Regions from separate parts of the Homo sapiens genome. Here region 2 is linked to region 1. The links come from fine-mapping of genetic effects on gene expression. A gene starts in region 1. The other region holds a variant in brackets. All regions are shown on one strand. Distances are from middle to middle.

Evidence for each region.
Region 2: its variant is fine-mapped to the expression of STX5 in whole blood (TOPMed, PIP 0.99).

The regions. Positions count from the first base shown.
Region 1 is chr11:62,830,334-62,833,239 of GRCh38, forward strand. STX5 (syntaxin 5) reads right to left here and starts at 1,718. Exons shown (of 11, transcript NM_003164.5): 1 at 1,621-1,718; 2 at 686-929. The coding sequence starts at 910. It overlaps TEX54 (testis expressed 54), which reads right to left and starts at 2,508. Exons shown (of 1, transcript NM_001395459.1): 1 at 1,988-2,508. The coding sequence starts at 2,417. The coding sequence ends at 2,043. It overlaps WDR74 (WD repeat domain 74), which reads right to left. Exons shown (of 11, transcript NM_001369450.1): 11 at 2,578-2,798. The coding sequence ends at 2,619. It overlaps STX5-DT (STX5 divergent transcript), which reads left to right and starts at 1,901. Exons shown (of 2, transcript NR_135084.1): 1 at 1,901-1,984. RefSeq lists enhancers at 1,629-1,718, 2,089-2,158, 2,179-2,228.
Region 2 is chr11:62,748,129-62,751,034 of GRCh38, forward strand. ZBTB3 (zinc finger and BTB domain containing 3) reads right to left here. Exons shown (of 2, transcript NM_001370809.1): 2 at 2,835-2,906. Among named protein-coding and RNA genes, the nearest start is that of ZBTB3, 4.6 kb to the right of the region's middle. The variant T/G (reference allele first, on the strand shown) is at 1,496.

The sequences.
Region 1 (2,906 bases):
GCCAGGTGTGGTGTCCAGACCAACCTGGGCAACATAGTGAGACACTGCCTGTACGAAAAAATTTTAAAATTAGCTGAGTGGTGCATCCATGTAGTCCCAGCTGCTCAGGAGGCTGAGGAAAGAGGATCCCTTGAGTCTAGGAGTTCAAGACTGCAAGTGAGCTATCATCACACCACTACACTCCAGCCTGTTGACAGAGTTGAAAAACAGATCTCAAAACAAAACAAAAACAACAAATTACTTATCTAGAAAATGTCCTTAATCTTACAGAGATAAAAACTAATATGTAACTAGATTAACTAATTTTCTCATGGTTACAGAGCAAACTTATGGTAGAAGTATATTGGAAAATTCAAGGTGCATGTTTCTCAGCTAAAGGCTCTTCCTAGAACTTGTTCCTTATTCACACCAATTATATTGCAGCCAAGTACTCTCTGAAGTACTCCCTCCAGAATAGCAATCCTGCCCTCCAAAGGATTCCTCACAAAAAAAAGTCTAAGTCCTTGCCCCTAGTTAGCCAGCCGACCTCTTCTCTGTTGCTTATAGCAGACCCTACAGGCCCCATCCAAGCCTATCAGTTCCATCAGGTACCCCCCAAAATTACTTCGGTTAACAGTGGTGGAGCACAGTCCTTCCTAGATTTGAGTAAGGCTCACTCCTCGCCTTTTCCACTCCAGGTCCTTACCTGACGGGTCTGCAGCGACTTGCAGGCAGACAGAAACTCCTGGGTCCGATCCCGGCAGGACATGGTGTCGGGAGGGGGAGGGACGAGGGTCACTGGGGGGGGCAGAGGGGCGATGTCGCTGCTGCTACTGCCAGCAGTTGCAGGGGACAGGACCTGTGTCTTTGAGAGACCCAGGTAGACACCCTGATCCGTGTTCTTAGACCCGTAGCGTTTCCGCGGGATCATTGAGACGCATAACCTCGGACTGTTGTGGAGGGGAGAGTGTCATTCCCCAGGCAACTTCTTTACCCAAACTCCCCCGCCCCACCCCAATCAACAAATCCCCGAGCCCCTTCTGCACTTCTCGTGGACTTTCGCGCCCAGGACGCTCGCAAATCCTGGGGCGGACCAGCAGCGGAAAGGGCCCCGCTTTTCCCCTGTCCCAAGTCGAACCCGCTTCAGACTCTTCTTCCAACTTGGCTCTGGCGGCCAGAGCGCGGGCCGGGGACCCTGAAGCAGAGACAGGGCCAGAGCCAACCCCGTGGTCCTGAGACTCCGGCCCGGCCCGTGTAACTGCCCCGGGCCCTAACCCAGCCCTTTCGTTTCCGCGGTTTCCTTCGGCCCCTCCGGGAGGGCCAGTGACGGACCTCCAAAGACTGACACACTTCGGTGGGCGGAGGGGGAAAACCTCTGGGTGTTTATTTGAAACAGGAAGTCCCACCCCCCGCCCAAGGTCCGCCTTCTGGAAGACTTCAACCACTCATTAGCTAAGGCCGACGTCTCTCTCAACAGAGGCTTTCCTGATTGGACGGCAAGGAATTCGCTCACCCGGAGCCGGGCCGGCAGGACTTGCCCGCTCGCCCCTGATTCCCTTCCCCCCGCCAGTCGTCGCCCCCGTAAAACCACTGCCCCAGAGCTGACACGGCGGCCAGATCCCCTCTTAAAGCGAATCTTACCTCCCCTCTGCCGCCTGCCGCCGCCGCCACTTCCAATCTCACCGGCCGTCACTGCCTCCTCCCCGAGCACTGAAGCCGCCGAAACCCGACCAAAGACTGGAAGCGGCCACGTCACCTACACGTAACCCCACCCCCAGTGACGAGGGGGCGGTCCCACGCGTTTCAAGCCCAGCGACCCGAAAGACACGCCCCACACCCAAACGCAAGAGCGATCCCGCCCTCCCATTGGCTAAGGCGCCACCGTGACCCCGCCCCAGAGTACTACAGCAGGCGCTCAGGGGGCTGGGCCCGCCTCCGGGAAGGAGCCTTAAAGAACCAGCTGCCCGGTGGTGTCCGCGCCCAGTCCCCCAGAGTGGTCGTGCAGGTATACGTTAGAAATTTTATTCTCTGGAGGTTGGGGCGGACTGAGAGCAGGTCTGGGGTCATCCCTTCTCCGGCTCCTCCTGGTTGCCTTCTCGGATCGGACTCTCCTGCTTCCGAATCTGGTCTGGTTGCCTCTTGCTTGGCCGCGAGGAGCCCCGACGACCGAACGTGGATAGTCGCCGCCACAGCACGGTAATCAGAAGGCTTTCGTTCGACTTGTGATTCGGATGGTCCGGGGAGTTCAAGTCGATATCTTCGGCGCCTGAGGGGACGACGAGGCCTCTGAGCTCACCCCTACCCTCGGGAAGCCCCCTCTCACACTCCCTGGGCCCTCTTTGTGTGTCTGTGGTCTCATCTTCCCTGCCGTCCTCAGACTCTTCCTCCTTGGACTGCTCATCAGACATCTCAAAGTCCTTGTCTTGGCAGCAGCCCATGGCCCCGCGTGGCCCTGGACTCCGTGCCACCCACGCCAGCCTGCCTGCCTCCAGGCCCGGCTTTTGTGACATCAGATATCCCGTCGCCCCAGCTCAGGCAGCCCCCACCCCAAGCTACCCCTCATTCCTTTCTCCCATCACAAAAGGCTCAGGGTCATGGTGGGTGTTCAGCAGTTTATTTACAAAGTGGGCACAGGGGCGTCAGGGGCTGGTGGACCCAGGCCGCTTCTTCTTTCTCCGTCTCGTTTGGAGAGCTCCTTGGGGCTGCTCCAAACCCGAGAGCTTCCGCTTGGCAGCTGCCTCCAAGGATGCCCAAAGTTCATCTGTCTCTGTGTCTTCTAGGGGCACCTTGTTGGGTTCTTGAGGCTCTTGGGGCTCATCCTGGTGAGTGGGAAGAAAGCTTAGGAGTCAGGGGGGCCGGGCACGGTGGCTCCCACCTGTAATCTCAGCACTTTGGGAGACCAAGGCAGGAGGATTGCTTGAGCCCAG
Region 2 (2,906 bases), 82 kb before region 1:
CCGTAAAATCCACCCTTTTAAGGGCAACTGATTCATAAAGGCATTTTGATTTGATATTTACTCTAGGGAAGACTTTTGAAAAGGTGTTCTACCCAGCTAGAATAGCTTTTATTGTATTTATTTATATCTTGCCTTGTTTCATCAAGGAATTAAAGCAGTAACGTACTTGCATAAATAAAATTAGGAGCCATTTGAAAGATAAGCTAGAAGTTTATTTCAACACAAAGAATGTGAAAGAATGTAGAATTCATTCAGCAGAAAAATGTTAACCATCTTTTGCTTCCCATATGTCCTAGTTAAGGAGCTTTCTTTAGCCACATGGCTGCTCACCTTTCCTTCCTGTAACTCAAAAATAGTCACTTGCTGGTAAGGGTTCACAGTGCTGAATATGACACAGACTCAAAAAGAGAGAAGAATATTTACTTGTCATTTTCCCCCTTTTCTTTTTTTCTTTTTTGAGATGGAGTCTCGCACTGTCACCCAGGGTTGGAGTGCAATGGCGTGATCTCGGCTCACTGCAACCTCCGCCTCCCGGGTTCAAGCAATTCTCCTGCCTCAGCCTCCCGAGTAGCTGGGATTACAGACGCCTGCCACCACGCCCAGCTAATTTTTTGTATTTTTAGTAGAGATGGGGTTTCACTATGTTGGCCAGCCTGGTCTCCAACTCCTGACCTTGTGATCCGCCCGCCTCGGCCTCCCAAAGTGCTGGGATTACAGGCGTGAGCCACCGCGACCAGCGTATTTCTGTTTTCCTTCCTGCTTTATTTGCACTCATGTCCTTACGTACCAAGAAAAAGTTTGTAGGCAAACCTTTAGGCCCTCCTACAGCACAGGCGGGGCCAGACTCCTCACACATTCCCAGAGCTCTTTTTTGCCCCCATCCCATGATGGCACCCCAAACTCCCATTTCTTTGCTATCTCCACTGTCAGTAACCACCTGCGTGACCTTAGGTGAGTAACCTAAACCTCCCTAGACTGTTGTCGTCACACTTTTCAAGTGAGGGAGTTGGACTACATGAACTGTAAGATCCTCTCATCCTGAGTTTCTCGCTTTAGGTTTTGCAAGTACCCATCATTGCCACAGCACCTCAGACCCTCAACCTCCCACCACTAATCAGCCACTATGGGCCTTAGTGTTTCCTGCCTTCCAGTTTCTCATCTTCAAAGAAGTCAATTCATATCTACAACTTGAGGCAAAAATTTCAGATCATCAATACAGTACCTGTTCTATCAACAAAAGGTCTTTCAGTGGGGAAAGCAGAGGTAACAAGGCAACAAAGCCAAATACACAAAAGGACAGAAAAAGAAAACAACTTACAGTTCTTGGTTAACTAAGTTCAACTTTTCATTATTATTTTATAGTGACAGGCAGGCCTCACTATGTTGCCCAGGCTAATCTGTAACTCCTAGCCACAAGCGATCCTTCACCTCAGCCTCCCAAAGTGCTGGGAGAACAGGCATGAGCCACCCCAACAGCCCTTCAAACAATGTTGTT[T/G]TTTTTTTTTTTTTTGAGACAGAGTCTCACTCTTGTTGCCCAGGTTGGAATGCAATGATGCGATCTCGGCTCACTGCAACCTCCGCCTCCCAGGTTCAAGCAATTCTCCTGCCTCAACCTCCTGAGTAGCTGGGATTACAGGCACCCGCCACCAAGCCTGGATAATTTTTGTTTTCTTTTTTTTGAGGTGGAGTTTCGGTCTTGTCACCCAGGCTGAAGTGCAGTGGCGTGATCTCAGCTCACTGCAACCTCTACCTCCTGGGTTCAAATGATTCTCCTGCCTCAGCCTCCCAGGTAGCTGGGATTACAGGCGCCCACCACCACTCCTGGCTAATTTTTGTAGTTTTAGTAGAGACGGTTTCACCATGTTGGCCAGTCTGGTCTTGAACTCCTGACCTCAAGTGATCCGCCCGCATTGGCCTCCCAAAGTGCTGTAATTACAGGTGAGAGCCACCATACCTAGACAATTTTTTTTGTGTTTTTAGTAGAGATGGGGTTTCACCATGTTGGGCAGGCTGGTCACCTCGGCCTCCCAAAGTGTTGGTATTACAGGCATGAGCCACCACACCTGGAAGAAACAATGTTTTTAACCAGTATAGCAGGCAGGGTGTTTGCAGTGGCAAGCCAGGTTCAAATGCTGGCTTGCCCCTTAACTAGCCTCTGTGACCCTGAACAAGTTAACTTTGATTTCTAAGTCTCAGGTTTATGAACAACAACAAACAAAACAGGAAGTGGACCTCATACCTCCTAATGTTGTTGAGGATTAAATGAGTATTTATACGAAATGTCTGATAAAGCCCAGAAGACAGCTCGACTGCAATAATAAATCATAATTTTATAAGCTTCCTTAATTTCTATACTTCTCCTAAGTAAAGGCTACATCGCCCTCTGCCTGTCCCACTTTTTTCCTCATGAGCAGTCTGACCCCTACCCCTACCCCTACCCCAAGTACAGATGTAACATTCCAAAAAGAACTGAAGGAGAGCCGTGGCTCACGCCTGTAATCCCAGCACTTTGGGAGGCAGAGGCGGGCGGATCATGAGGTCAGGAGATCGAGACCATCCTGGCTAACACGGTGAAACCCTGTCTCTACTAAAAATACAAAAAATTAGCCGGGCTTGGTGGTGGGTGCCTGTAGTCCCAGCTACTAGGGAGGCTGAGGCAGGAGAATGGTGTGAACCAGGAAGGCGGAGCTGGCAGTGAGCCGAGATCGCGCCACTGCATTCCAGCCTGGGTGACAGAGAGACTCCGTCTCAAAAAAAAAAAAAAAAAAAAAAAAAAGAACTGCAGGAGAGGTATGAAAGCATGCAGGTTTTTAGAAGAAACCAGCCAACACCAGTTCAAAGAAATACCTTCATTGCTAGCTTTATGTTCCAGAACATACAGTGAGAAGCGATTACACCTCAGGAAA